Linked DNA regions of Homo sapiens. The protein of the gene in region 2 interacts with the protein of the main gene of each other region in a biochemical or structural test. Each region holds a gene or a part of one and is shown on either strand. Other genes may lie near its edges. The genes, in order: EXOC2, RALA, PLCD1 and RALGPS1.

Region 1 (7,020 bases), on a different chromosome or scaffold from region 2:
GGAGTGTAACAGGCTACAGCACGTGGCATGGCTGCACCCTTTCCCCTGCTGCCCCTCTAGTCAGCCTCTTCCCTAACCCCATCTCCCAGCAGCCACTGCTGACTTTCCCTTCCTCTCATTTTGTATTAACAGGTATTAGAGAGTGGGGAGCGAAAGCAGTGAGTTAACCACCAGGGCAAGCAGGGTTAGGGGCTAATTCCACTAGGCAAATCGCTTTGCTGCCTGATATCGCAATCTGTTTCCCCAACTGATGTGATACAGTCATCTAATTTTTTTTCTTTTTTTCAGATGGAGTTTTGCTCTGTCGCCCAGGCTGGAGTGCAGTGGCGCGATTTCGGCTCACTGCAACCTCCACCTCCCGGATTCAAGCAATTCTCCTGCCTCAGCCTCCTGAGTAGCTGAAACTACAGGTGCCCGCCACCACACCCGGCTAATTTTTGTATTTTTAGTAGAGACGGGGTTTTACCATGTTGGCCAGGATGGTCTTGATTTCCTGAAGTCGTGATCCGCCCACCTCAGCCTCCCAAAGTGCTGGGATTACAGGCATGAGCCACTGCGCCCGGCCCAAGTCATCTAATTTTTAAAGCTAGGAAGGATCTTAGAGTTTTCCTGGTTTGGATGCAGCAACCAAGAACTGGGTTTAACAGTACTGAGGTCAAGAGATTATTTCACGGTTTAACAATGTTCAATATTAGAATGCTATCCCCACAGCAAATCTAAAATATAGTCCTGACCTGGGGCCATTTCAGGGTGTGTATTGTTCGTGACACACTACCTTTTGAGCCCTGTTCCACATATGAAACGTAGCAGTGACTGTTTCAATCTTTTATCATATTTATTTTAAAGAAATGAACAGGGTTTGGAACCAATTCAAATAGAGGATGGAAGTTAGAGAAGCAGCAAGAAAAAGGAAGAAAGGGCTGATTGTGCAGGCACTGTCTGCACAGCTGCCATGTGCCCACGTGGGATGCGTGCGGGGCGGGGCGGCGATGCCCCCGGGGACTGATGGTGGAAGGGCTGGTCTGCTGCCTGCTCTGTGCGTCGATGCCATGTGACAGCTCCCCCCCATGGCCCAGCCTATGTGATCTCTCTGCCCTGCACTGAGTCTGCACTGCATTCACGGTGCCAGCATTTCAGTCAGTGCACCACATGTGCCTGTCTATGGGCCCGGCAGCCACGTGCAGGGCGGGTGGTGAAGGAATGAAGACTGCCTCAGCTCGGGGGAGCCTGGGCATTTATGAAATTTACCTGGCCTAGATTTTCTCTTAGGTCCGTTTCCTGTTCTATGAGTAGTAAAGTTTAAATTCAGGTTGAGATCATCAGTGTGGTCTAATGAAATATATATGTATATATAAAACTTTATTATGCCATATGTGCACATCTACTTTCATAACATTTTGTATTTTATAGAACACAAAATAAATACTACTGAATTACTCAAAAATTAAAAAAAAAATCACCGACTCCTGCATTTTACTATGCTGTCTTCTTTTTTCCATTACTTCTTATGTATGCTACTAATACAGTTTACTGAATAAGTCATAGATAGCTTTCTTAAGACCTTTTCTATACCAGTCACTTGAAACGAGAGCCAACTTCTAAATTCTCCTAAACCCAGAAGAAAGGTCTTACCTTATTCTGTCACTCAGAAGACATGCAAGTTACAGGTGACGAGATGTACCTACTAACGCTATTAAGTAGGTATATCTGCTTATTCTGATTCTTATTTGGATTCTGCTCTTCCTAGAATCCAAATCATTATTTTTAAAAGGTATTTTAGGAAACAAAACCTTGTTGAGCACATTCAACTGGCTCCTAAGAACAGCACACAGGACTTACTTTTTATCTGCTCCACTGGAAAGCTGGGGCAGGGCTTCCAAAGCCTGCTTAAAACTTGACCTGAAACACAAACAGCCACACTGAAGTTGAAGCCTTGCACAGGAGAACTGCTGACAAATTCTTAAGCATCCCTTAATTATTGAGAAGCCAATAAAAGCCAGTGAAGCAAGGAAATATGAGAAAAAGTAAAAGTGAAAAACAATAGAAAAAGTAAAAGTAAAAGCGAAGGTGTAGCTACCAGGTGGAGGCTTTGTAGCAACGGGGTCAGAAAAACTCAAATAGGAAATGAAACGCTACTTGAAAAGCTAAAGGAAAAACATCTTCGAAAGGATGCTAGTGATAGAGGAGAGCTTAATGTGAACATGTTTAATTTAAAAGGAGTCTTTTCAAAACAAGCAGCTGGGGATAATCCAGTTACTCTAAGAAATGGGGATGACCTTCTGAAAGATGACACAGTGGGGTGTTTACAGTATTTGGCCTGCACAGGGCCTGATCTACAGCCAATGTCTTGTAATAATTACAGTCTACTTAAAACTTGTAGAAAAATGGAGAGCTATATAGATGCTTTAAAAATTCAATGTAAGTTCTTTACATGAAGGTAAAAGGAAAGAATTTTAAAAAGAAAACTGTGGGATGTTTAGCTTTTACAAGGAGAAAGTATTAGAAAAATTACCAAACCAAATGAAAAGCATCATAGGGGAGACTGTGGTAATTAACTTGTACCATTCACAAAGGAACAGTTCTTTTATCTCTCTTATGATTGGTTAAGGTGAAGAAATACTGCAATTCTTGACTTTAGGGGGTCGTTGCTTTTATATTGTAAAAACATCCTCAATCTACCAGGAAATACGTTTTTGAGCAATATTCCTCAAATCAGGGGCAAGTGTCACAGCAACAGAGAGAAAGACTGAAAAGTTCCAACAGAGTCATAAAACCCGGTGCTGGGCATCTCCAGCTGCTCCCGGGAGGGCGCGGTGGGGTGTGGGACGGGTGGCTTGGCGCACTCGGGTCCCTTCCCACATTCAGCGGCCTCTTTCCTGGTGTGGAAGCCACTGCCGCTACCTCCACCATCAGCTTGTTTCTTATGAACCTCTTTTTGATTAATTGAAAGAAATGTGATGTAATTGTTTTGACAGTATGACAATAATGATAAACATACTACATATTATTGGCAGGGTACTGAAAATTAAAAAGTGATTTGGCACATTTTCTCATTTAACACCCTCAAAAGCTTGCCTAGAATATTTTAAACTTCCTCTATAGATGAGTACCTTATACTCTAAAACTAAGTCAGCAGGAAGAGGGTAGGCATTTGCATGAAGTGTGCACACATCCAACATGGGCTGGGTGCTTTCCATCCTGTTAGTATGTTGTACAGACAAACGATGGCTGGGAAAAGGTGTGGCTCAACAGTGAACATGGCCCACTAAAAATGGCTGCTGGTGAGCTGTGACCGACGGGAATGAAAGGCTAACTTCATTGGTTAGGAAAAAATGGAAAACGTATTTTCAGTTGCAAAGCTGACAGAATGACAGCAAGCCATGTTATCAGATGCTGGAAATGAGTGAGTAAGCATATTACAGTGTCCTCAAACATTTCATTTGCATACGACTTGGCTTCTCAGGCACATCAACACTATAACCCAGTATTTCCTAGGTAATGTTGCCCACGTAGTAAACAATTTTGCACAGACAAACAGTAGTTCTGCTTCACTTCACCTACTGATATTTCAATGGTAGGAAATCCTGACTTTCATTCAAAACAGCTAAAAATTATCAAATTTCCACTACAAAATTTTGCAGAGAAACCACAAGGCTTCCTCTTATACTGATATTTACAGCACTTGAGCTGTCCTTCAGAGTCTGCTATGAACAGACTAAGACTCAGTTCTTATCCTCTTTTGCTTTAAGAAGTATGTCATACTCTGCTGTATTATAAGACTAAGATTTGTCAGTAGTAAATGAAAAAATTATATTAAACCCCTTTCATTTACATTGTGTTACAAAGTGGCCTTGACATAAACTTTATCACATCACAAATTCATGAGCATGTGCTCTGATCAGTCATCTTTACAGAGGACAGAATTGACTAGTAAGACAACCTTTATTTTTAATAGAGCACTCAACTAAAGAACACTGCCACTTACTTGCTTTCGGGTGTCAGGTAAACAGCCACAGTGTCCCTCAAAGCACAGATTTCAAGTCTCGCCTGAAAATGAGAAAAAGACAAAGTGACAACAGGAAAATTTATATTATCAAATATAAACAAGTACTAAGGTTAAGGGTCTCCAGCCTGCTCATCGTAGGATGGGGTTGGCGTAATACCACCATGGTGACCGCCAGTCATGAGTAGAGTTTCTAAAACAGTCCGAAGAAATTTGCTACCACAAAATGTTCGTTGACTGAAAATTAACTTGTAGTCAAGGATGACTGTGTGAGGGCAGGGAACTAGATATCTCACTATGAAAAGTACAAACTGTGTCATGATTTTCCAGCCATCTGTATTTACTCTCTAACCACTAATTTTTCTTTTAGTCTTGCAAGAGGAAAGACACTTTGAAACACTGCCCTGAAAGGGCCCGTGTCCCACAGAGGTAAGGATGTGGCTTGGCATGCTTCCTGACACCTATGCCCTTGCAGGCACACTGCCTTAATCTCAAAACCTAAACTCTGCTCTATGGATTCAATGCAATCTCTATTAAAATCACAGCTGCTTTTTTTTTCCTTAATGGAAACTGGCAAGCTGATTGTAAAATTCATAAGGAAATGCAAGGCACTCAGAACAGCCAAAACAATCTTAGAGTAACACATTTAGAGGCCTCAGACTTTCTGACTTCAGCCATACTCCAAAGCTAAAATATATTTAAATATTGTATACCCTCATATTTATGATCAACTGCTATTCAACAAGGGTGCCAAGACCACTCAGTGGGGGAAGAACAGTCTGTTCAACAAATGGTGCTAGGGCAACTGGATATCCACATGCAGAAGAATGAAGTTGAATCCTTTCCTTAACACAAAAATTAACACGGATCACAGATCTAAATGTAAGAAACTTATGAAACTATCAGAAGAAACCCAGTGTAAATCTTTGTGACCTTAGGCTAGGAAACCCTTCTTAGAAATCATGCCGAAAGTATAAACAACAAAACAGATAAAGTGGACTTCACCAAAATTAAAAATCCAGTGCTACAAAGACACCATCCAGAATGTGAAAGGACGACCCACAGAATGAGGTATCACTTCACACCCACTAGGATGGCTATAATCAATAAGAGACAATAACAAATAATGGTGAGGATGTAGAGACATTGGAACCCTCAAAAATTGCTGGTAGGAATGTCTGCCACTTTGGAGAACCGTCTGGCAGTTCCTCAGAAGATTAAGTATAGAGTAACCACATGACCTAGCAATTCCGCTCCTTGGTATGCACGCACGAGACATGAAAACACATGTCCACACAAGAACTTGTATAGGAGTGTTCACAGAAGCATTCTGCATATTAATCAAAGGTGGGAAAACCACAAATGCCCATCAGCTGATGAATGGATAAATAAAATGTGGCATATTTAAAGTGGAATATTATATGTAAAAAGAAGCGAGGCACTGGCATATGTCACAACATGGATGAACCCTGAAACATTACGCTACATGAAAGAAGCCAGTCACAAAGGGTCATATTTTCATGTTTCCATTTATACGAAATTTTCAGAGTAGACAAATCATAGAGATAGAAAGCCAATTGGTAGTTGTCTGTAGGGGGAAAGGGTGGTTTGGGAGGCAAATGATTAGACTTAATGGGTCAGGGGTTTCTTTTGGGATGAAATGTTCTAAAATTGATGATGGTGATGACTGGACAGCTCTTTGAATATACCAAAAATCATTGAATTGCATATTCTTTTTCTATTGTAGACAGATCGTATGCTATGTGAAATATTTCATAAAAGTTTTAAGAAAAAAGTTAAGCTTTCACTTCTACGCAAGCATGAATAAGTGTGATCTGACATACAAGTCAGTTTCCTGGGAGCTCCAGCAGACCCACTGACAATGATAACTTGATGTTCTGAAGTAGGTGCCCACAGTGAGTGGGACACACAGGAGAACATTTAAAAGAAATATCCCTTATTCTCAAGGAGTGGACAAAACATAAAACAATGACAAAAGACACAGCCAGCTCTTCACAGTTTATTAGAAATTCTGTAAGCCATCTAGATCAAAGCAGATATATATGACACAGGATATTCAGTGACCTTTTTCTGTTTGGAAGGCAATTGTTTGGTTTCATTTTTTCAGTCCCTTAGAAGCCTGAAAAACAGTATATAACTAGAAAGTTACAAATGCTAGAAAGTATGACAATTTCTGTCTCTATTTTGTTTATATTCTAGTATAGGTAAAAACAGACCTACCAGGAAAAAAGGTAGAACTTTCAGCTGACCATTTTAGGAGAAAGATTAAATTACTACAAAACCAATCTTCTGGTAGAAATTTTATTCAATCAAGGTGATAGAGTGTTTTAATTAACCTGTAAGTTATGCCAATTATAAAAACTGTGGTTAGCTATATAATACCTACAAAACTGTAATCCAGAAAACATCATGCTAAAAGATCTGCCAAAATCACCAAACTGTCACTCCCCTTTTCACCAAGCTCTCAGGACAGTTCTGGAGTTTGGCACCTAATTGCCTATCAAAGGTTAACCTGCTATCCCTCTTAGAGCTATGGCCTCAAGGAAGGAAGCTCTCAAAGTCATTCTCAGTGGGAGAGTGAAGCGGGAGTTTAGACTCACGACCTTTTTCAAAATACACATGTCTGTCCAGGCCCGAGGAGGTCTCAAAAACTGGAGGCTGGAACAGTTTGATGGCCAGTAGTTTCTGGACATGTGTACGTGAAAAAATTTTCCAGCTAATTCTGAGATCACTTTCCAACCTCTCCCTGCTGGTTTTGAGAGTGGTTTAGCCATCAGATAAATGGATTACGGAGGTAATGTGTAGAGAGGGCGGATGCCTGTTAAAATTCTAAGACTGCTAAGGCCCACAGTAGCGACTGCGACTGCCTGTTAATTCATCTGTAGTATTACACAGTTTATACTACTCATCTCCTGTGATGGAACTATTATAATAACCATGACCTTTCAACTTAAACGATAATATCAAAGATCTGATACATCAATTTTCAGAGAAAA
Region 2 (7,974 bases):
TTCCCAAACCTGACTGATCATTGGAATTCAAGGGAGAGTGTTATTACAGTTACAGATGCCTTGGACTTCACCCAGTATTTTCTAATCCTAAATCTAAATATTTTCTGTTTAGAGTGGGACTTGAGAATCTGAATTGCCTTTGAAACTACACAGGTGATTGTGATAAGCAGTCACATTTGGGAACCACTGATAGAGTAGTCTTATCCTCTAATCCCTTGACAGAAAAGTATAGAAATATGTGGTCCACAAGGGTCGTCGGCATGAAGGGGAGAATTATGAAGACCCAAACTCTCATAACCCCACTCTTTACACATTCTCATTAAAGCTGTGTTTAGATATTCTAGATGACCCTTTTGTTGTGGGTCATCCGGACTATCTAAGCCCAACAAACATATCCAGAGGCATATCATACAGGTGACTGTCATCTGCATCACCTACTTAAGCCTATCTCTCCAAGGCATGACGTCATTAAAAATGAAGTGGGAAATTGAGGCAATGGTTCCACCAATTTAAAGTACAAACCCAAATAAACTATCTTCACATGAATGTGCTGAAAATGTGTACGACCTCCTAAAAAAGTTTCTGAGGTGATTGTATCAGCTTTTTTCCCGCTAATTCAACTAAACATCACAATATACATTTTACTCATCCCCAAAATATTTTCTGAGTACTTATTTTGGGCACCATGAAGGATACAAAAATGAATAAAACAATGTACCTGTCTTCAAGCTGGTAAAGATACAGCCATAAACATAAGAATTGTAGTTTTCAGTTTTAAAAACGTTAAGTTTGGCTGAATTTTGGAGATGCTGCAGGCAATCAATAATAAGCCAGAAATGTCCATATTATAAATACATTCTGGACTGTCATATCAAGCTGGTGACCCTGGTATAAAGTACTAAAAGAAACAATATATTTTGAGAATCTCAAAATGTGTGTTTGGGTATGTTACTTGACAACTGTAGTGAATTTTTAAGTCTTTAAAAACTAGTCTCAGAGCGCTAGTCTTTCAGCACTCTGAGCCTATTTCTTTCAACAATTTGTATCTCACAAAATTGTGAAAACAAAATGAAATAGTACAAATGTCAAGGTGTCACGGAATTTTTTTTCTTTTTTGAGACAGGGTTTCATTTTGTTGCCCAGGCTGCAGTACAGTGTAATGATCACAGGCACTGTAGCCTCGACCTCCTGGGTTCAAGGGATCCACCTCAGCCTACTGAGTAACTGGGACCACAGGTGAATGCCACTATGCCTGCCTAGTGTTGTTTTTTTTTAATTTTTTTTTTTAATAGAGATGAGGGCTCCCTATGCTGTCCAAGCTAGTCTTTAACTCCTGTATTCAAGCGATCCACATGCCTCGGCCTCCCAAAATGCTGGGATTACAGGTGTGAGCCACCACACCAAGTCATGGTGTCATGAATCTTATAGATAATGCTCATAACTCTAATAAATAATAAAACATGATTTTGAGTTGATTTTTCACCAGTGGTGACAAATGGCTATTAACCAATTACTTTCTTATCTGGCCCTAAAACACAAAGAAGCCTTGTTTGTCATTGCTGTTCCCAGATGTATAGTTAATATACATTATATGATAATTTTATAAATTGGTATATAAGCAAGTGTATAAAAATAAACATGCACATTATGTAGTCATGAATACATTTAAATGTTTACATTATGCATACACCTCTCTAAAGGAAATACTGAAGTCACCAATTTAATGGAAAAAATTCTCATCTACTTTAGGGATAGACATTGGACAAAACTTCACAAGTCTATATATTTCATTACATGTTTGTGATTAAACAGTGATGAGAATGACAGAGTTTCACAGGAATGTTCAACTTAATTGTGTCAAACATGTAACTGTCTATAAATTCTATAGGGACTGCATTATTCTATGGGGACATGAATAATGTTTTTAATACAAAATTCCAGTTAACTGACTGGAGTAGACTAATCATTAATTCTAAAACATGCTTCTGGCAAATCCCTATCTACCCTGTATTTTCCCCCAAAGCATATATTAGCTATGAGTAGCATGAATATAAAAGTTGTGGTTACCAAAACTTCTTTTTACTTCCCTCTTTCATTAACTATATTTGTTAATACACAAGGTTTGATCATAAATAGTAAAGTCAATTCACAAGTTAAGAAAAAAGATCTAAGTGTATTTCAAAACAGGATCCTTCATGTTCTTTGAGTAATCCAGGCAGCAAAGTCAGGAATGCTCATGGGTGCTACTGGATATTAGTGCTAATTACTAATAATATGTACTTACAATTATGCCCTTTCATCCAAGTACCTCAAAGAGCTTTCATAGCATTAATTTGTTATTTCCTATAATATCTTTGAGAGGCGGCTGATAGAAAGTTATTATTATCTCTATTTTACAGTCAGAGAAACTAGGGCATAGAGAGGTTAAGTAACATTGCTAGGGTCATACGGTGAACAACTGACAAAAAAGGGACTCAAGCTAATTATTCTCATTTCCTGTTCAGTATATTATCCATTATATGGTTGTTCAATACACCTAAATGCTTTTTTATCCTAGACAAATTGAGAATACTGTATTTAAATAATCTAAGACGTAAGTGAACGCGTTTCTCTTTTTTTGTGTGTTCAAAAATGCTGCTCTACAGGGATATAGAGTTAAAAACTAATAATTAGTCTTTGGTTTGCAGCTGTAGCTATTATTTATAGGGCTTTTACTATTTGTGGTTTTCTGAAGCTCTGCTCAAAATGAAGTATTCTATTTCTCACTGCTTTATGCTAGGTTAGCATAGCTGTGAGCCACCAAAAAGCAGCTGAGACAGGCTGACTAATGAATTTGAGGTTGTCTTTCATTGCGTTCCTATTGCTGACTCTTCTTGAAGTCATCCTCCTTCTAGCTCTCCATTCAGCAGATATTTGTGCAACCCACCATCCTCAATCCTCAGCCTATGGCCAGCTTAACTGTTGTCAATGATTAAATTTAAAATATTTTTATTGGAATGGAGCAATTCCTACAGAATAAAAAAGAAAAAAATTAAAATATTAAAATATAAACATAGATAATATTTCATTTTATGAGTTAATGATGCTATACTATTAATAGTTACCACTGTTACATCCAGTTTCTGCTAAACCTGACCTTTAGGGTCCTTAGAAGACCATTAAACATTAGAATATTGGTCTATGGATGGACACATATCACCATATTGGGTTTTTTAATGCAGTATTTCAGTAATTTTCCCAAGTAAAGGCAGGGAGAAAGGAGAAGTGGTTTTGAAACTGTGCTCAATGACGTAAGACTGCAGTCAGCTTGGTTATGGTCATCTAAACCTGTGGTGTTTCCAACTTCAGCCCAGCTCCTCCCTAGAGCTCTAGACCCATATAGCAACCACCATTAGACAGCACCACTCTTACTTCACTCATCAACTCCAAAACTGAACTCATTTTTTTTCTGCAAAAATGTCCCCTCCCAGGACTCATCCTAACTCTTCCTTATCTTATTTAGTAAAATACACCCTTATCCTGCCCCTCCCTCAAAGCAAAACAAGGCATCATCATTGCCTCTTCCATTCTCCTATCTGGCAGCTGCCCCTAGCAACCAATTACCAGTTGATATGGCCTCTTGAATATTTTAGGAATCCATCTCCTTTGGATGCTCACTACCATTCACACAGGGTCCTTAAGTTTTCTCTTACTGGCTTCTGCAATGGCCCCCTTGTGGGCTCTCTGCTTATCCTTCTCTGCCCCCCCACCTCCACCCCCCCAAGTTATCTGTTCTCTACCAACAGAAGAATAGCTTAAATTGTAATCTGTCCACTCATTGCCTCACCAAGGCATAGACGATTCGTGATTTGGCTCCTGTTTTCTTCTCCAGCCTCATCTTCTTCAGCAACCTAAGTTTGAACTTCAAGACCTGTAATTATTACTCATTCTTCTCAACAAATTATTTGTCCCCGTGCTGCATCTCCTTTCTGTTCGGATCCGGATTTGCCATCCCACCCCTATTTTTGTAGTAGAAAATGCCTATTTATCTTTAAAACTCTAACCTACGTTAGTAAAGCTATCCATTCTTCACGCTGTACATCTTGATAAACCATACTTCCAATAGCAATGATTTGCTTTCATGTATGTCTGCCCACTAGACTGGACATTCCTTGAATGGCTCATACCAGGAATATAGTTGGTACTCAATTTGTGGGGAGCAAAGAGAGATAAGCGAATAAATGTCAAGACATAAGAATCTGTAGCTGCTAACTTAAATTTACGGATTTAGTGAAACTACTTCTCACAAGCTACCAAATCACAGTGCCATGGGGCCGCAAGATGATCTCAGTGCCACACCGACACCTGCAGAGTCGCAGGGGGGTCCGACACCCCTCAGAAAGAACTCGCAGACCGTCCGAGAAAGCGAATTCTCCAGGGGATCAGCAGTTAGATGAGGCCCAGGGCAGCCACGAGACCCTCCAGCCAGGGTAGGCGGCTGACCCGCCTCCTGGGATTTGGCCCGTGACAAGCCACGTCGCCAGCTCCGCTCTGAATACCCCCGGCCACGCCACACGAGCGGCCTCAACCCTGAGACGCCCAGGGAACATGAGCTGACCCTCTAGAAGCAAGATGGCGGCCTCCGCTCTCCCCTCCTTCCCCCAAGAACCCCCTCCTGGTCCCCAAAAGAAAGACAAGGACACCGCGGCAACGACGCCGAGATCCGGGAACCTCCGCGAGGCCCGCGGCCACTCCCGAGCCCCCGGGAGATGACTTCACCTCGCGGAGCTCAGAGAGCCGGGGGTGGGGCCGTCGGAAAGACAGCGCGGACAGCCCTCAGCTTGCAGGGGGCGGAGGCCGGGCAGCCTGCGCCCTCCGAGCCACTGTTCTGCGGCCCAGGCCCATGATCACCCTCCTCTCAGCCCACGGACAGGAAGTCGCTCCCCAGCTGCCCCGCCCCGCTCCCCAGCGCCCCGGAAGTGATCTGTGGCGGCTGCTGCAGAGCCGCCAGGAGGAGGGTGGATCTCCCCAGAGCAAAGCGTCGGAGTCCTCCTCCTCCTTCTCCTCCTCCTCCTCCTCCTCCTCCAGCCGCCCAGGCTCCCCCGCCACCCGTCAGACTCCTCCTTCGACCGCTCCCGGCGCGGGGCCTTCCAGGCGACAAGGACCGAGTACCCTCCGGCCGGAGCCACGCAGCCGCGGCTTCCGGAGCCCTCGGGGCGGCGGACTGGCTCGCGGTGCAGGTGAGCGATGCCCGCTCGGGCCGCCCGGGGAGGGACTGGGGCCACCCGGGCGGCGGCGGGGGTGTGTCCGGGCGGCGGCGGGCCGAGGCCCTGACGCGGGTTCGGGCTGCCGAGATTGCACATCCCACGTTCTGCCCGGGGACGAGCTGCGAGATGAGCCCGGCTGGAATCCGGGGCACCGCGTTCGCCGCTGTGGGGCGAGTGAGCCCCCGAGAGTGAGCGGCTGCGGAGAGGTCCCCTGCGCCCGGCAGCCGGTCTCAGTTGGCCTCGTCCGAAGGTCACCCCGCACCTTTCGTCCACGGCGCCCAAGTTCCCGCCCGGGCGGTGCCCGCGACCTGGGGCAACCCGCTGCCGCCGCAGTCCCCGCGCCTCACTCCACCCCTCTCCCCTCCTTCCCTTTCTTTCCACTCCTTGCCTGTGCTAGAGCCGCTGCTTTTTAAGCATCTCCGCCAGGGTTTTTTGTTTGTTTGTTTTGTTTGTTTGTGTTTTTTTTTTTTTTTGCCAGTTAAAGGAATGGTTTTTCAGACTTAAAGTCATTAGACTCTCCGCACTGAACTGAATACCTGGCCTTGGGCGCTTGCACAGCTTTAGCCCATTTTCAGGTAATCTAGCTTCTAATATGAGGAAGAGAATACATTTTGGGAGAGAGGTGTTTCCTCTGTGGTTCGTTTCTGAAAGATTTCCAGAAGTGGAAGATGTGATTGGCATGCTTTAGCCTGGATATATGTGTTTAAGTAGACGGGGGTGACGGCACACAGGGGTGGCAGTGTTGTTTCAGGATTTAGGGAGAATTAGGGAGTTAACTGGCCTGTGCTCGGAAACCTGAATGTCCAGACTTGTAAGAGCTCATCCAAGTGTGGCTGAGGTAGTGTGAGAAGTCCCGTGCCACGCCCTACGTGTCAAGCTGAAAAGCACCTAATTTACAAATTGTGTGGTGTGGGGGGGGAACAACCTTTATAAAACATGTATCATAAGTTAATTCTTTTCCAGAAAGTAAATTGCAACTTTAATCATATTCCAGAAATTGGATAACAGATTTCATTGGTAAACTCTTACAGTATGTTTATTAATGTATTTCAGTGTGTCTTATTAGCTCATGTTTTTCTGTCTCTGGTAATACAATATTATTCTAAACCGACTCCTGTATTAAAATAATACACTATTATTGTGAAGTATTATCTGACAACACCGTTTTTTGACCTTGGATTTCTTTAGGGCAGGAGCCATGTCCTACTTATGACTGTTTCTATGCAGTATGCCTTGAACATAGAAGCTGTTCACACATTTCTGCACTGAATGAATGAGTGTATAGGTTATCTCACAGTCACCATCCAGGAGTTGCTTATTTTTGTTGGGCTAGGCTGTTTGTTTTGTTTTAGGTTCTTGCCACTTACAGACTTTACTTCGTGTTTCATTCTTCAGCAGTCAGAGTTCTTTGCCTTCCAAAACTATCCTCCTCTGAAAGGTTAAAATTATATTAAAATTGTGCTGGGCATTATAACTTGTATTCTAGTGTTAAATGCTTACTACTTGAGCATATTCAGAGTTAGTAGGAAGAGACTGCCTGGTGATACACATCAAGTTTATGTTTGGGGTTGATAACTGTACCCTATCTTAATGAAAAAGAGGAAATTAGGAGTTACCATTGTTTGGATAACGTGGTGCTTCCCAGAATGCTTATAGTGGTTCATTCTTCCCATGAATACACGCAATCCTCTGAAATCCTGATGTGACCTTGGCATGATTTACCAATAGCCTCTTTTACATTTATTTTCCAAGATCCAGATGCTGTTCTCTAGTGTGTTTGCTGAGTGTGCAATAATATGGATCATTTATTTTGAAGCAGTACTTCATTACAACACTTTCTTCACAGGGCTTTCCAAAGGAAGAAAGGGCTAATTATAGAAAAGAATCTTGTCTACCATTTGTGAGGGAATATTTTTGTCTGTAGATGGTTGGATTATTTTCACATTAGGGAGGTTCAAATAAGAAGAAAGTGCTGACGTTTTCTCTCCTCTCCAAGTATGTGGTGGTGGTCCTGCACTGTTTTTCCAAGCTTAGCTTCTACAGAACATAAATACATGTACCAGTGTCAATTCTTGTAGATATGCATATCAGTGTAATATGCATTTGTATTCTTTAGTAGATGAGTGGCAAGGACAATTACTTTTAAAATACTGGAATAAGAGGCTGTGAATGTTAATGAGGAAAAAGACTATGATTTTGAAGGAGACAGTTTATGATTTTCATTGTTTTATAAAATATTTTAACTCTTAGACACTAAGGAGAGGGAAGCCAGCAATTTCTTACCTCAGTGACATTACCACTATACAGAGGTTAGATTTTCCTTCTTTAATTCAGCAACCCTCTTGGTAATAAGAGTTCTCATGTGTTGATTGCCTGCCGAGCACTGTGATAAGAGCTTTACTTAAATTATTTCTAATCTCCACAACACTTCTGCAAGACAGGTAGTTTTCCCATACTTTATTAAGGTAAATTGAAGTTATTTGCCAGAGGCTAGGCACCTAGCTTGTGTTTAGTAGAGCCTAGATTTGAAAGTAACAATTGCTGAGAGCACTGAGTATTATTGCAGTTAATCCTAAATGGCTGTGGAAAAGGCAGTTCTGACTGAGCTGGAACTGGAGCTTCAGGAAGGTGAAGATACTGATTCCTCTCTCTTGGACATCAAGTGTGGCCTGGGGTTGCCAGCAGTCCTGGCCAGGTGGCCTCAAGCAGCAGCCATTCTTCTCTTTTA
Region 3 (7,380 bases), on a different chromosome or scaffold from region 2:
GTGTGCCTGTGTAGCATGGGCCTGGAAGCCCAGGGGCAGACTGCTTTGGAACACAGGTGAGTGAGGAGCTGGCCACCCCAACTTGCTAAGAGCTCTGGAATCATCATCTCTTGGAGGACTGGTTTTTGGGGCAACCTAGAATTTCTATGCCCATTGGCGTTTATGTTCACAACACCCACTGTGAAATATGTACTGCTATCCCATGGATGATTCTCAGACCCACAGTAAGTAGAACCAAAGCTAGGACTGGAGCCCAGGTCTACTGGGGCCAAGATGAGGCCCCTCTATTTTCTGTTTTTACAAACGGCACCTCTTGCAGGGGTGGGGGCAAAAGGGATTGGGTGTAGGAAAAGTTAGTGTGTATGTGGGGGGTGTTCAGTGAGGGGAGGGCCCTGGGAGGTAATGTCCTTTGGGGCACATCGGGGGACCTGCTAGAGAAGCCAGTCCAGGCATAGCCAGAATAAAGAGTGGAAGAAGTAAGGTGAAGGAAGGAGGATGGATGCTGTCGCATCAGTCTGAGGGCTTCAGAGGCACTAGAAAGAGCTGGCTGGCTCGCTCTTGAATCTAGTTCTGGCCCTATTTTCCATGACTAGGAACTACCTTATGATGCCCCCATCATCTCCCAAAGAACTACAGATGGCAACTCATAGGGCATAGAAATTTGGGGAGGGGGCCTCCTGCAGGAACATAGTACTCACTGGGTACCAGGCACTGTTCTAACTGCTGTGTAGATATTATCTCATTCAATCTTCGTAGCAACCCTATGAGGTAGATGGTATTATCCCCCATTTTACAGATGAGGAAACTGACACACAGGGAAGTCAAGGGATTCATCTGAGATGAGAAAGCCAAGACTTGAACTCAGGTACTTTGCTTTCAGAATCTATGCCAGTAAACTACATTACTTCTGCATGCATCTGGGGTGAGGACAGAAGGGACATGTCACATCTAGGTGAGCCGCATAGCTCCCCAGGCCAACAGAAGGAGTCCCTCTGGGCTCCTTCCAGAGAGTGTGGAGCCCTAGGCCAGAGAGTGTGGTCCTGCAGCACATCCAGTGCTGGGGCACCCACACTGTGAAACGGATGCAGACTCTCCAATGCAAGTGTAGACAACCTGGAACAGCACAGGGCACAGTGATCACCCCCTCCCACCAACAATTCTCCTTGACAGGTTCTTATTTCCCCATCTGGTTTGCAGTGTGGACAGAAGGCAGTTGAGGTAATTTTGGGTGATGAGCTAGAAGTGGCAGGGCCTTCAGGGAAAACAGCTTGGGGTCACAGTGTTCATGTCAACCCTTCAGGAAAGGCTGGACTGAGTTAGGCATTTGGGAGGCTGGTCTCAAATGGGGTGGGCCAGGGCAGCCAAGCCTATGCCACAGGACTGGGAGGTCCTGACTGAGCCTCCATGTGTCTTCCTCCATGGAAAAGATATCAAGGCTGCCTCAGGAGAGAAACTGGACAAAGGCACAGACACTGAGGATGAAGCCTGTTCCAACAGGAGCCAAGGAATGACGCTGTGTCAGAGAGAAAGCAGAGATGTCCACTGTGTCCTCTCAGCTGCCCAGCCTCCCTTCTTGCTAGTCTGGCAGGCGCACGAAAGACACCTCTGGCCTGAAGAAAGAAGAGGGAGCACTGGAAGGGGCAGGGACTCCATGACTCATCTAGACAAGGTGGCTTTAAGGAGCCTAGGCTATTGGTGTAAAAGCAACAGCTCTGGGCACAGAGCAAGGTCTCTCTGGGCCAGGAGGACCAGGTCTGTGCCAACTGCAGAACACGAGATAGACTGGAGGCTGGCTGATGGGAACATCTCTAAGTCCCTCTAAATTCCAGGGGGACTCTAGTGGAAGGCTAGAGGACTCTGCCCTTCTCTTTCCCATCTATTATGTCCATGAACAGTTTAGATGGATGGGTGGTGGCCACTAAAGCCTCCAACCCCAAGGGTACTAAAAAAGAGAGGGATATACAGTAAAGCAGTGATTGGTATGAAAGGAGCAGGGTTTGCTGAGATGGCAAGTGACCTGGGAGGGCAGGAGGGCAAGCCCCCACCAAGAGTGAGTGAGTGCCTGTCCTGGAGCAAAGAGGCGCCCAAAGTTACCCTCCCCAACCTCCCGCCTCCCAGAAGGCCTCCAGATCTGCCTTCGGGAGCCCAGGCTCCCCTCGCTGCTGGAGGGACAGCGAAAGGGCAAAGAGCTGGCTCATATTGGAGGAAACAAAGCTCCGCTGGACAAAGGATGGAGCAGGCAGCTCCGGCTGAGACCTGGCCCTGTCCCCCGAGGAGGGTCGCAGATGAGGGGATCGTGCTGCTTCTTTCAGCCTGAGCATCGCTGACTATTCTGCGCTGGGCAGTTAAGGCTGCACGGCCCGACCACGGTTAACCTTGCACACCTCCTCTCCCCACCCGCTTAGCCCCTGCTCCGCCACACCCGCGCGGCCTGACGCGGTCCAGGCACGCCCAGGCTTTGGGGAGCCTCTGGGGCGGCCCGGATGGGGCAAGGAGAATTTTGGTCGTTCTTGGATGCTGTTTCCTTCCTTCGCCGCCCCTCCGTGCGAGCGGGATCGTGGAGCCCAGACTTTCATGACCAGGACAAGGGGGTCCGCGAGGCGGAGGGAAGTCTTTAGACCCGTACCGCCCGCCCACCCACCCCCCGGGCTAGATCTCGGACAAGCCTGGAAACGCCCAGGGTCGTGCCCGGCAGTCCCACCCAGGGAGCCGCGGGCTGAGATTTTCCCAGTCCGGAGAAGGGGCAGAGAGGCGGGCCCGGGGTGGTGTGGAGGCGGCCGAAGGAGCTGGGGGCTCCCTGTCCAGGGCCCGGAACAGCTTTCCAGGGGTCCACCCCTGCAGGGTCTCCCGCTCGCGCGGGCCAGGCACTCACCGTGCAGGGTCAGGAAGTCCCGGCCCGAGTCCATGCCCGACGGGCGGCGCGGCGGGAGGGGCACCGCGGGACTCACTTGAGTAGCGACAGCACCGGCGGCCTGGGGTCCGAGCGGAGTGCGGTGCAGGGACCTGAATGGACCGCGGTGGGAGGAGGCCGGGGGTGGTCCCGGGACACCGCCCCGCCCCCGCTGCCCTGCGCCCCCGCCCCCTGAGCCCGCCAACCCTCGTCTCTCCCCGCCCCCTTCTGGGGACGCGAGAGGGAGGGCAGAGCTGGGGGCCCGGAGGACTGGCCAACCCTGGCCCGGGCCAGCGGGCGCGCCCCGACCAGAAATAGCCAGATTCCTCCAGCTTCCTCCGCCGCCGCCACCCACGGGCCGCGGGCCCTGTCATTACCGCGGGCGGCCGGGCCCCACGCCCTGTTGTGGGCGCCTCGCTGGGGTCGGGGTGATGCTGGAAAGAATCCGGCGTCATCCCGGGGAAGGGATCGTGTAAGGTCCGACGCCCAGCCGGGCTGCTGCGCTAGGGAGACGCGGCGTCCAGGCTTCCAGCCGCAGCTCCCAGCGTTCGCATTCCCTTCTGCGAAATGGGTGCACGGACACGATTAGAAGGTCTTCAGAGAGCAATACCTGGACCTTGTCGGGAGGAGGGTCCCCTTCCCTCTCGCTGGGAGGTTTCTAACCCCAAGAGTGCCTTTGGTGGAGTGTTGGGGGTGTGGGAGGGGGAAGCAAGCAGGTGCACGGATTTCACTTTTGAGCCACTCATATCCCAAAACCCCAGCGATCCATGCAGCCGAGGGGGAGGATCCCCAGGGTCCCTTCTTCAGGTGGCCTCCCAAGGGGCTGTCTGGGCAAGGTCCCTATGCAGACCCACCCCCTAACTCTTGGGACCCAGAAAACCCCCTTTATAGGTTGCCCAGAGACCCCTCCCACCACAGACCCTGGGAGGGTCCCTAGATCCTGTTGCCCACCACCCCTTTGGAGAGTCCCTTGGGAAAACTGGGCTCTTGGTGTCAGAGAGCCCCCAGAGGGCCTCCCAGGAAGCCACCCAGGCCTCCTGGGCTGATAAGGCCAATGTGAGAGTCAGGCAAAGCTAGTTGGACCAGCTCTGCGGGGAGGGGGCTGGGCTCACCCCAATCCCTCCTCTTCTGGGCCCTAGGTGGCCTTGAATAAGGGATGTGAAACAGCTGAAGGACAGTCTTCTGGTTCTGGGGGTTAAAAGTGGATCAGGACTTCTGGGCTTTGGAGAGCCCCCTGCTCTGCATGCCCCCTCTCCACAGACGGGGCTTCACCCCTTACCTGGCACTCAGCTCCAATCCTGTCCTGCAGTGCGAACACCCCTGCCCTGGGCAGGCCTGTCAGTTCCTTCCTTGGTTTCCCTTCTGCCCAGGGCCACACTCCATGTTTGCTGAGGGATGAGCAAATTCATACTGGCAGGCATCACTCTGGACCTCCATACAGGGGATGAGTGGGGAAGAAGGGTCCCCTTCTCTGCCCTCTGGAGGCCTCCTCAGGCCTTGGAGCCTACCACTTGCACCTCTGATACTCCTGGAGCCTGCAAGCCCCTGTACTCAGCAAATCAGGCCTCCTCAAGCCCCCCTCCTCTTCCTAGGCAGCGTCACAGTGAAACTCTGACACCAGGAGTGGACATGGCTTCATCTCAGTCATCATTCCTATGTATTCACATCATCTCCCAACTCTGAGCCCCAGGCCCCAAGCCAGGACATTACCTGGGAGCCTCTCCTTTCCCTTTGTCTATGTACCATGGTGGGGATGCAGCCAGGCTCTTCCTTTGCATGCTCCAAACCCACCTCACAGAATCCCTCCTCTGGCCCCTGGCACAGACATAGGAGCTGCAGCCTCCTCCCTAGCCCAGGGTTCTTGGGCAGGATGGGCACTGCTGACTCAGAGCTGGCACATGCAACCAGGTTCTGCCAGACATGAGGGCTGGGCCCCGCCCTGCTCATAGAGAAACCCGGCGGCTGCTCAGAGCCGTGGGTGAGCCCTCACTCCAGTCCTCTCCTCTCTTCCCCTGGCTATCGGCCCCTCCTGGCTCTCACAGGCTGGGAGGTGCTCTGCTGGTTCCTGCTAGGGGTAAGCCTGTGTGGTATGAGTGAACTTGTGTGGAGGGGCTGGAGCTCAGAGGAGGCAAAGAGGCTTTGTACCAAGTCACGAAGTTGCTGGATTCCATTCCCTTTGCCTTCACTCCCTCTGCCCTCAACTCCCAGGGCCGTCTGTGGGCCCAGCCCTGGCCAGGTGCCTAAATTACCCTCCTCAAAACCCAGCTCTCAGTTGCCTGTGCAAGATGCCCTGAGATCCCGGTGACTCAGAGGGCTATTTGGCAGGCTTAGTTTGGGTACACAGAGGGCCCACACATGCCCCAAAGACTAGTTCTTTAATGGGGGAGTTTCTGGCATCTCACTCTCCTGACCATGCCCAGTCTTCTATGTCTGTGTGAGGATGGATGGGGTGATGGAGCTTCTGGGATCACTGGAGACAGGGAAGAGAGACCTAGTGTTGGCACCAGTGCCTGCCTCAAGCCACTTCACTTGGTCTCTCCACCACTACTTTCTCTGGAGGCCTGAGGAGGGGGTATTATCACCCAAGAATGCCAACGTTCAGGATGGTCAGGCTCCAAGCGTGCTTCAGGGCTGGCCCTTTCCAGTCCCTCCCCCATGAAATGCAAACCTAGCCCAGCTTGGGTAGGTGAGGTGAATGGGGTTTATTCTGCCCCCTCCCTGTCTTTAGAGCCTCTGCTCCAGGATATGGGGTGAAGGGGCTGTTTAAATCTTGACTTTGCAGCTTCCTGCTGTTAAGACTTTGGAAAAGTGACTTCGCTTCTCTGAGCTCCTCAATCAGGAGCTATAATCATCCTTAGAACTGGCAGAAGTAATGGATGGCAAGTACAGGGCACAAATAAGTACCTGCTAGAAGGCCACCAGAATCCCATATTCCCACAGCCATCCTCTGCCTGGCCTCCTCTACAGATCCAGGTGGCCAGAGCCCAACCTGAGGCTGTTGGTCTGAGGTCATGCCCCTGCTGCTTTTGAGGGCTGCAAAACCCCCATAGGAGCTCCCTCCAGAGGGTCATGGGCCCAAGTCCAGATGCATCAGGAGGAAAAGTGAAGGCTGCTCCTCCCAAGGGAGCAGCTGTGGCAAAGTGAGAGTCCTCAGGTCATGCAGGGTCAGATCCTCAGGTCCTGACCTTGCAGGGATCCAGGATGCCATAGTGAACTATGAGGCTGCTGGACCTGCTGGTAGTCCCAGGACAGTATGGGATTATTTGGGGTTACTATTCTATAATTATATTTGTGGGATTTTATTGTGTATTCATTTGTGAATGTAACTGTGATGTTTATTTCACTGTGGACTGAGTCCCAATGCTCACCTCCACCCCAGAGGCAGAATACAGTGCTTGGCATGGGGAACAGACAGGAAACTTGCCCTCAGACCCTTATCTGAAGGAGGAGGCAGAGGGTAACTCACCTGAAGGAGGAAACACACTTATGGGATGTGTGAACTGAAGAGACCCACATTTGAAAACTGTTCTGCTATGTCACTTATTCAACAAATATTTATTGAGCAGCTACTGTGTAGTGGGCACTGTTCTAGAGGCTTGGGAGTCATCTGTGAACAAAACACATCAAAAACCCCTGCCCTCCTGGAGCCCAAATTCTAATGGAAAGAAAAGAGACATTTTAACAAATGTAAGAAATGAATTGTACAGGATATTAGCAGATAATAAGTAAAATGAAAAAAGTGGGTTAAAGCAGTTCAGGAATGGGATAGGGTTAATTTTTTTTTTTTTTTTTTTTTTGAGATGGAGTCTCGCTCTGTTGCCCAGGCTGGAGTGCAGTGGTGTGATCTCAGCTCACTGCAGTCTCTGCCCCCCAGGTTCGAGTGATTCTCCTGAGTAGCTGGGATTGCAGGTGTGTGGCACCACGCCCAGCTAATTTTTGTATTTTGAATAGAGACGGGTTTTACCATGTTGGCTGGGGTGCTCTTGAACTCTTGACCCTAAGCGATCCACCTCACCTGACAGAATTAAATTTTAAAAGGGTTGATCAGGCTGGATTTTATGGGAAAGGTGACAGTCAAGCAAAGCCTTGACAGAAGTGAGGGACTGAGACATTTAGAGATATCTGGGCAGAAGATTCCAGGCACAGGAAATACACCCTGAAGCAGGAGGGTGTTGGTATGTTGGAGGATGAGCAAGGAGGACAAGGCCAATGTGGCTGGAGCTAAGAGAGCAAGAGAACGGGGAAGTGGGGCGGGCTGATCATGGGAGGAGAAAGAGAGGTAACCGGGACCAAGTCCTGTTGGGCCTTGTAATAATTCACCTTTTATGACTGGGCACGGTGGCTCACGCCTGTAATCCCAACACTTTGGGAGGCTGAGGCCGGTGGATCACCTGAGGTCAGGAGTTCAAGACCAGGCTGGCCAACATGGCGAAACCCTGTCTCTACTAAAAATACACACACACACACACACACACAAAATTAGCTGGGAG
Region 4 (7,623 bases), on a different chromosome or scaffold from region 2:
CAGAATTCCCTGTCCTGCTCTCCTTGCATGTTACATGCTGTTCTGAGTAGCTTGTGTTGAAAGATGGGCAGGCAGTGAGAGACAGAACAGGACCCTAACCAGGTGGATCAGGTGCCTTCTCCCCTCCCGTCTCATTTATTCTTCATAACAACCTCACAAGGTGGGCATGGTTATCCTTGCTTTACAAATAAAGAAACCAAAGCTCTGTGAAGCTAAGGAAGTAGTGCTGGTTCACTCAGCAGGAGGTGGCAGCCTGCAGTTTCAAACAGACCTGACTGACTTCCAAGTCTGAGCTCTTACCCTCCATACTGAAAAGGAAAATCCATTTCAAGAGGTGGGCCATATCACAGAGCCTCACATGCAGTATTTTTCATTAATGAAGTATTTCTCTCCACCCTGAATGTTGCTAATCCCCTCATTATTCAACACATGTTCTAGGTCTTCTTTGCCACCAAGTTTGAGCTTTCCTTCTAACCCAAAGAGCATGATGGTCACTCAGACAGCAGCAGTCTCTGAGAGCCATTAACACCGCTTCTGCCAAGACAGAGTGGGAGAACTCTCACATGCTGCTTCTAGATCCTCTGGGACCTGCCACACAAGCACAGGCACCAGTAAGGGCCTAATCCCCTCAATGCTACTGGGTCACCACTGCACCAACTAGTGGTAATGAGGGAGGCCAGCACCATGGTTCCTGGCCCCTAAAGTCCCACAGCTTCTACAGTGAAAAAAAAAAAATTCAGGTTAGTAGAGAAGGCTCCACCTACCTTCACTTCTGTCCATGCAACGAAGGTAGGAGGCATTACAGTTTGGACTGGTCAACTACCAGTGAGCAGAGGCACTGGGCTTTGAAAGGTCACATATATGGGTATACAACACTCTTCTGAAATTCAGAAAAAGCCCTGTCATCCTGCTTCCTTCTCCCCGCCCCTGTGGGTACACAGTGGAGTCAGGCATTGCCTTCTTTTGGGGGTCTTCTTTTGGGGATTTTTGTGTGTTTTGAGATGGAAAAGTCTCACTCCATCGCCCAGGGTGGAGTGCAGTGGCACGATCTCGGCTCACTGCAACCTCCGCCTCCCACGTTCAAGCAATTCTCGGCCTCAGCCTCCTGAGTAGCTGAGATTACAGGTGCCCGCCACCATGCCCGGCTGACTTTTGTATTTTTTAGTAGAGAGGGGGTTTCACCATGTTGGCCAGGCTGGTCTCGGACTCCTGACCTCAAATGATCCACCCGCCTTGGCCTCCCAAAGTGCTGGGATTACAAGCGTGAGCCACCGCGCCCGACCCTCTTGGAATGTGGTAAAATCGGGGTCTGTACTTGGATGGGGGCAGAGGGACTTCCATAGCCTCAGGCCTGAGCTTTATGTTCCAGCTCAGAGTCCTCACCGGGGTTGGGGTCTAAAGGTCAGCAAACAAATGTTCTGCTGCTTCCACTTGCCACTGCTCCCTGCGTTGCAGCAGCTCCCTCAGAGGCCTCGCAGAGAGAAGCAGTCACGATCCAAGACACGGCTGAGTCTTTTGGGAACTCCCAACAAAACCTCATCCCAAACTGCGAAAAGACAGTGGTCTAGTCTCACCTCTTAACTAGAAACAAACCCTCTCTTCTTTAGACTCTCCAGTCCCTGAATCCAACCTGCCCATCGGCACAAGAAAAAGGAAACTCATAACTTTATCCAGCGATTTGCTCAGTAGGCACTGTTTCATCCTATCCTCACCAGGCCCCTGGGAGGCACACAGGCAGGTACTAACATGCTCATTTTGCAACGGAGGAAACAGGTGAAAAACTCTCCCAGGTAGCATAGTCAAAAGCTTCTGAATTCTCATCCCTGCTCTCCCCACTTAACAGGCTGCCATTTCAGTCTTTTTGAGACGCACTGCTGAGATCTACAGCAGCTTCTGGTACCAGTGGCCAGCAAGCCAGGACCCCTCCCAAGCCTCATACTACTCTTCAAGCACACACATTTTTCAACAACCGATCATCCAATGACAACCAACCCCCCGCCCCCCGCATCCTGGCAAGCCCCTTCAATAGCAACAGGAAAGCCCCTGAGGTGCGAAAAACAGCGCGCCCCACTTAGGGCGCGGCGTAGCATAGGGGAGGCAACCGGCCAGTAACCAGGGCAGCTGAGCTCCAAGCCCGAGTCAGCAGAGGCACAGGCAGGCCCGGACGGCCCTTCTAGCGGCAGCCCCGGATGCCCCCAGAATCCTCAGGGAGCCCAAAGCCCCCGCTCCCACCCAAGCACCCCTGGGCAGCGGAGAGGGCGGCCTTTCCTTCTCGGGCGACCACTCACCCTCGCCTGCTCCTCACCTGGGGCCCTGCTTCCGTACCGCAGCCACCCGGGCCCCGCCCCCCACCGCTGCAGGTCCCCGGGCCCCGCCCCCCGCACCTGTGCTTTCCTTGGGTCCAGCGCGGGCCGCACCCCACAGCCCCGCCCACGGCAGCCCCGCCGGCCCCGCCCCCCGCACCTGCAGCCGCGGCGCCCCGCCCAACTGCCCCCCCGGCCCCGCCCCCCGCGCCCGCGCCTCTTCCCCGCCGTCCTTCACGCTCCCGGGGACCAGCGCGCCCCTGGCCCCGGACCCCAGAACCCCCGGACCCCGGCCAGGCCCCGGCGCCGGGCACCCGCAGGCACGGCCCCGGCCCCGCCTCCCGCACCGAGGCCCCTCCCCGGCTTCGGCGGCCCTCGGGGTCCCGCCCCCCACACCTGCAGCTCCCTCAGGCCCGGCCTCAGGGCCCGCCCCGCCCCGCCCCGCCCCGTCGGCCGCGCCTCTCACCGCCGCTCTCCCCGCCGCCGCAGTCCCGGCCGGTCACCTTGACGCGGGCCGCAGTGGCTGCCGCCGCTTCCTCATGGCCCTGGGAGCGGCCCAGCGGCAGCGGCGCCTTCGCTTGGAGGCCGGGGCCACGCCGAGCCGGGCCGGGGCCGGGCCAGGCGCAGCTGGAGCGCGGGCAGACGCGGGAGCGGAGCCGGTGCCCAGCCGCAGTAGGAACCGTCCGCTCCAGGGCCTGAGCGGCGGGCCTCTCATCCAATCGGCGCGCGGCACCAGAACAGCCCCCCAACCAGCTCGTTGTAGGGGCGGAGACACGCAAATCGGCCGGCTGGTCGTACCAGTGCGCAGCCGCTGCATCCGCGGTCCTCCCGGGCCTCGGCCTCCGAGCTCATCTGCAGACGCCCTCCCCGCCCGCAGGGATGCTGCGCTGCCAGCACACCCGGCCCGCCGCCCGCCACGCCCATCCCCTGCCTAGAAATAGCCGCGCATCTTATTCCCCACACGGCCGTCCAGGCCTCACCCGATATCCCCCGTAAATCCCTACCTGGGATTTATCGTTTTCAACAAAAATGGTTTTGTGAGCGAGACATCGCCTTAGTGCCCATTCTTCACAGCTGGGAGGTAGGCACAGAGCCCAGAACGTCAGAGCCAGAAGAAACCTCGGAGTTCCTGGCGGGGCGGGGGGGGGGGCGGTCTCATCCATTTTACAGCTGGGCAGAGTTAGGCCCAACGAGGTGAAGGGACTTGCCCAAGACCACACAGGAGCAAAGCTGGGGAATGAGCCCGGATCCTGTCTCTCTGCTCCCACATCTTTACTCTGTGCCAGGCACGGTGAGGTGGGCACAGAGGTTAAGTCATTTAGCTAGAGTCGCAGGGATAATAAATTGCAAAGACAATTGAAGCCAGGTCTGTGAATCCCTGGAAATCTGGAACCACAGCAAAACTCCGTTCTGCCTCCCACAGACAGGAGGTACTATGACCTGCCCTACTCCGAAAGATTCTTGGACAAATAGAACATCATTCTGACAATCTTCAAAGTAATTTTGCAGTAATATGAATGAATATGGAATGATTGGTTATTATGCTTCCCAAAGCTTATGAAAGGAAAAAAGAAACAAACAAAAAAGAATATAAATAGAGTCAGTAGAAGTTAAACCACCTGTGTCTTAAAAGACCTCTGGGAGAAGTTTCTGCTATTTTGTATTAAGAAAACGGTAATCATCGAAGAAGGTGCTTAATTATTTTGCATAAAGAGAACAAGAGCCTGGCGAGTTGGCTCATGCCTGTAATCCCAGCACTTTGGGAAGCCAAAGCGGGAGGATTGCTTGAGTTCAGAAGTGTGAGACCAGCCTGGGCAACATGGCCAGACCCTGTCTCTAATAACAATACAAAAATTAGCGAGGCGTGGTGGCGCAGACTGTAGTCCCAGCTACTCAGGAGAGTGAGATGGGAGTATCACTTGAGCCCGGGAGGTCAAGGCTGCAGTGAGCCTCAAGTGATGGCGCCACTGCACTCCAGCCTGGATGACAGAGCGATACCCTGTCTCAAAAAAGAGAGAGAGACCATCCTGGCTAACATGGTGAAAACCTGTCTCTACTAAAAATACAAAAAATTAGCCGGGCGTGGTGCGGACGCCTGTAGTCCCAGCTACTCGGGAGGCTGAGGCAGGAGAACGGCGTGAACTTGGGAGGCGGTGCTTGCAGTGAGCTGAGATCGCACCACTGCACTCCAGCCTGGGCGACAGAGCGAGACTTCGTCCCAAAAAAAAAAAAGAAGAGAGAGAGAGAACAAGAGACAGTGTAGTGCAATGGTTCTGCCCTGGCTCTGCCACCAGCAAGCTGTGTACATGTGAGCAAGTTACTTAGCATATCTATGTGCCTCCGTTTCTTTCTTTTTTTTTTTTTTTTTTTTTGAGACGGAGTCTTGCTCTGTTGCCCAGGCTGGAGTGCAGTGGCACGATCTTGGCTCACTGCAACCTCCGTCTCCCAGGTTCAAGCAATTCTCCTGCCTCAGCCTCCCAAGTAGCTGGGATTACAGACGCCAGACACACCATGCTCAGCTAATTTTTGTATTTTAGTAGAGATGGGTTTTCACCATGTTAGCCAGGTTGGTCGCGAACTCCTGACCTCAGGTGATCTGCCTACCTTGGCCTCCCAAAGTGCTGGGATTACAGGCTTGAGCCACCGCGCCCAACCTGCCTCGGTTTCTTTATTGAAAGATGAGAATGATAAAAGTAGCAACCTCTTTAGACAGGCTGTTGGCAGGAATTAATGAGATGATACATGGAAGAGTGCCTGGCACCTAACAGGACCTCAATAAACATTGGCTACTATTATATTTACCTGTGTGACTTTGGGCAAGCACAGAAGTGTGTGCAATGTACGCTTGCTAAATGGCATCTATACTTTTATTATGCTTATGCATACTTTCTAAGTTTTTTCAATGAACACAGATTCTTTTGTGATATATTAGAAGTTATTATAAACCCAATTTTAAAATGAGGAAAGGTCATTTAATATTGATTCTTGATGCTTCCAGAAGGATGTATTCATTCTTTCTACAAATATCTAATGGTTCTCTGCTATGCGCCAAGTGCTACTGTAAATGCTGAGAAAACAGCAGTGAATAAAAGAGACAAAAATTCTTGTCCTCGTGGAGTTGACATTCTAGTGGGGTAAGGCAGCTATTAAAATCAATATTTACAGTAGTAGGCTAGATAGAGAAAAGTGCTATGGGAGTAAAATGAAGCAAGGAAGAAGGGAGTTCAACGTTAAAGAAGACAGAAAAGTTTAGATGGTGATAAGCGAGAAATAATAGGTTTCTTAAAGCAATAAAGCCAAGTGCAGTCTGAGAAAGAGAGAGAGAGAGAAGGATCTGAATAGACATTTCTCCAAAGAAGATACACAGTGGTCAATAAGCACATGAAAAAGTGCTCAATATCATTAGCCATTAGGAAAATGCAAATCAAAACCACAATGAGATACCACTTCACACCCATTAGGATGGCTACAACAAATAAGATAGACAATAACAAGTGTTGATGAGAAGGTGAAGAGAATAGAACCCTTGGCTGGGCGTGGTGGCTCACGCCTGTCTCCCAAGGTGGGTGGATCACCTGCGGTCAGGAGTTCAAGACCAGCCTGGCCAACATGGTGAAACCCCATCTCTACTAAAAATACAAAAAAATTAGCTGGGTGTGGTGGCAAGTGGCTATAATCCCAGCTGAGGCAAGAAAATCACTCGAACCTGGGAAGTGGAGGTTGCAGTGAGCTGAGATGGCGCCATTGCACTCCAGTCTGGAGGACAAGAGTGAAACTCCCTCTCAAAAAAAAAAAAAAAAAGAGAGAGAGAGAATGGAACCCTTATACACTGCTGGTGGAAATATAAAATGGTACAACCACTTTAGAAAACATAGAGTTAGCATATGACTCAATCACTCCACTCCTACTTACCACCCAAGAAGAAATGGACACAACATGTCTGCACAAAAACTTGTAGACAGGTGTTCACGGCAGCATCATTCACAATATCAAAAAATGTGAATAACCCAAATGTCTATCAAGTGATGAATAGATAAATAAAATATGGTTTGTCTATACAAGGAAATGAAGTACTGATGCATGCTACGACATGGATGAAACTTAAAAACATGCTAAGCGAAAGAAGCTAGACCACGTATTATATGATCCCTTTTATATGAAATGTCCGTAATAAGCAAATCTATAGAGATGGAGGGTAGACAAAGTGGCTGTCTAAGGCTGAAGGAGAGGAGGATTTAGGGGCAACAACTTAGGAGTTTCTTTGGAAGAGGATGAAAGTGTTCTAAAATTAATTGTGGTGATGGTTGTAAAACTCTGAATATACTAAAAGCCATTGAATTATACTCTCGCTCTTTTTTTTTCTTTTTTTCTCTTTCTTTTTCTTTTCTTTCTTTTTTTTTTTTTTTTTTAACAGTCTCACTCTGTTGTGCAGGCTGGAGTGCAGTGGCACGATCTCAGCTCACTGCAGCTTCTGCCTCCTGGGTTCGAGCAATTCTCCTGCCTCAGCCTCCTGAGTAGCTGGGACTGCAGGTGTATGCCACCACACCTGGCTAATTTCTGTATTTTTGTAGAGACAGGGTTTCGCCTTGTTGGCAGTCTGGTTCTGAACTCCTGACCTCAAGTGATCTGCCCGCCTCGGCCTCCCAAAATGCTGGGATTACAGGCATGAGCCACCATGTCTGGCCGAATTATACTCTCTAAGTGGGTTAATTATATCTCAATAAAGCTTTTTTTTTTTTTTTTTTTTGAGACGGAGTCTCATTCTGTTGCCCAGGCTGGAGTGAGGTGGCACAATCTCGGCTCACTGCAACCTCCGCCTCCCGGGTTCAAGTGATTCTCCTGCCTCAGCCTCCCAAGTAGCTGGGACTATAGGTGGGTGCCACCACACCCGGCTAATGTTTTGTATTTTTAGTAGAGACAGGGCCAGGGTGGTCTCGATCTCCTGACCTCATGATCCGCCCGACTCGGCCTCCTAAAGTACTGGGATTATAGGTGTGAGCTACCACACCTGGCCAATAAAGCTATTTTTTAAAGTTATTGTTGGCCAGGCGCAGTGGCTCACACCTGTAATTCCAGCACTTTGGGAGGCCAAAGCAGGCAGATCAACTGAGGTCAGAAGTTTGAAACCAGCCTGCCCAACATGGCAAAACCCCGTCTCTACTAAAAATACAAAAATTAGCTAGGTACAGTGATACATGCCTGTAGTCCCAGCTACTTGGGAGGCTGAGGCAGGAGAATCACTTGAACCCAGGAGGTGGAGGCTGCAGTGAGCCAAGATCACACACCACTGCACTCCAGCCTGGGCAATACAGTGAGACTC

What was found.
Region 1: the proteins of RALA (region 2) and EXOC2 are reported together in a solved structure, tested with the Homo sapiens proteins (2 studies listed by BioGRID, with this or other methods).
Region 3: the proteins of RALA (region 2) and PLCD1 form a complex in vitro, tested with the Homo sapiens proteins (one study listed by BioGRID).
Region 4: of the proteins of RALA (region 2) and RALGPS1, one has a biochemical effect on the other in vitro, tested with the Homo sapiens proteins (one study listed by BioGRID).

The regions. Positions count from the first base shown.
Region 1 is NC_000006.12:487,140-494,159, forward strand, and holds part of EXOC2 (exocyst complex component 2), read right to left. Parts: intron 4,048-7,020; coding exon 3,986-4,047; intron 1,900-3,985; coding exon 1,840-1,899; intron 1-1,839. UniProt on the Homo sapiens protein: Component of the exocyst complex involved in the docking of exocytic vesicles with fusion sites on the plasma membrane.
Region 2 is NC_000007.14:39,618,607-39,626,580, forward strand, and holds the start of RALA (ras-related protein Ral-A precursor), read left to right. Parts: upstream 1-4,965; 5' UTR 4,966-5,219; intron 5,220-5,720; exon of another isoform or gene 5,721-5,821; intron 5,822-7,974. UniProt on the Homo sapiens protein: Multifunctional GTPase involved in a variety of cellular processes including gene expression, cell migration, cell proliferation, oncogenic transformation and membrane trafficking.
Region 3 is NC_000003.12:38,026,634-38,034,013, forward strand, and holds the start of PLCD1 (1-phosphatidylinositol 4,5-bisphosphate phosphodiesterase delta-1), read right to left. Parts: upstream 3,010-7,380; 5' UTR 2,907-3,009; coding exon 2,873-2,906; intron 1-2,872. UniProt on the Homo sapiens protein: The production of the second messenger molecules diacylglycerol (DAG) and inositol 1,4,5-trisphosphate (IP3) is mediated by activated phosphatidylinositol-specific phospholipase C enzymes. Essential for trophoblast and placental development.
Region 4 is NC_000009.12:126,910,159-126,917,781, reverse strand, and holds the start of RALGPS1 (ras-specific guanine nucleotide-releasing factor RalGPS1), read right to left. Parts: upstream 3,001-7,623; 5' UTR 2,807-3,000; exon of another isoform or gene 2,770-2,806; intron 2,344-2,769; exon of another isoform or gene 2,289-2,343; intron 1-2,288.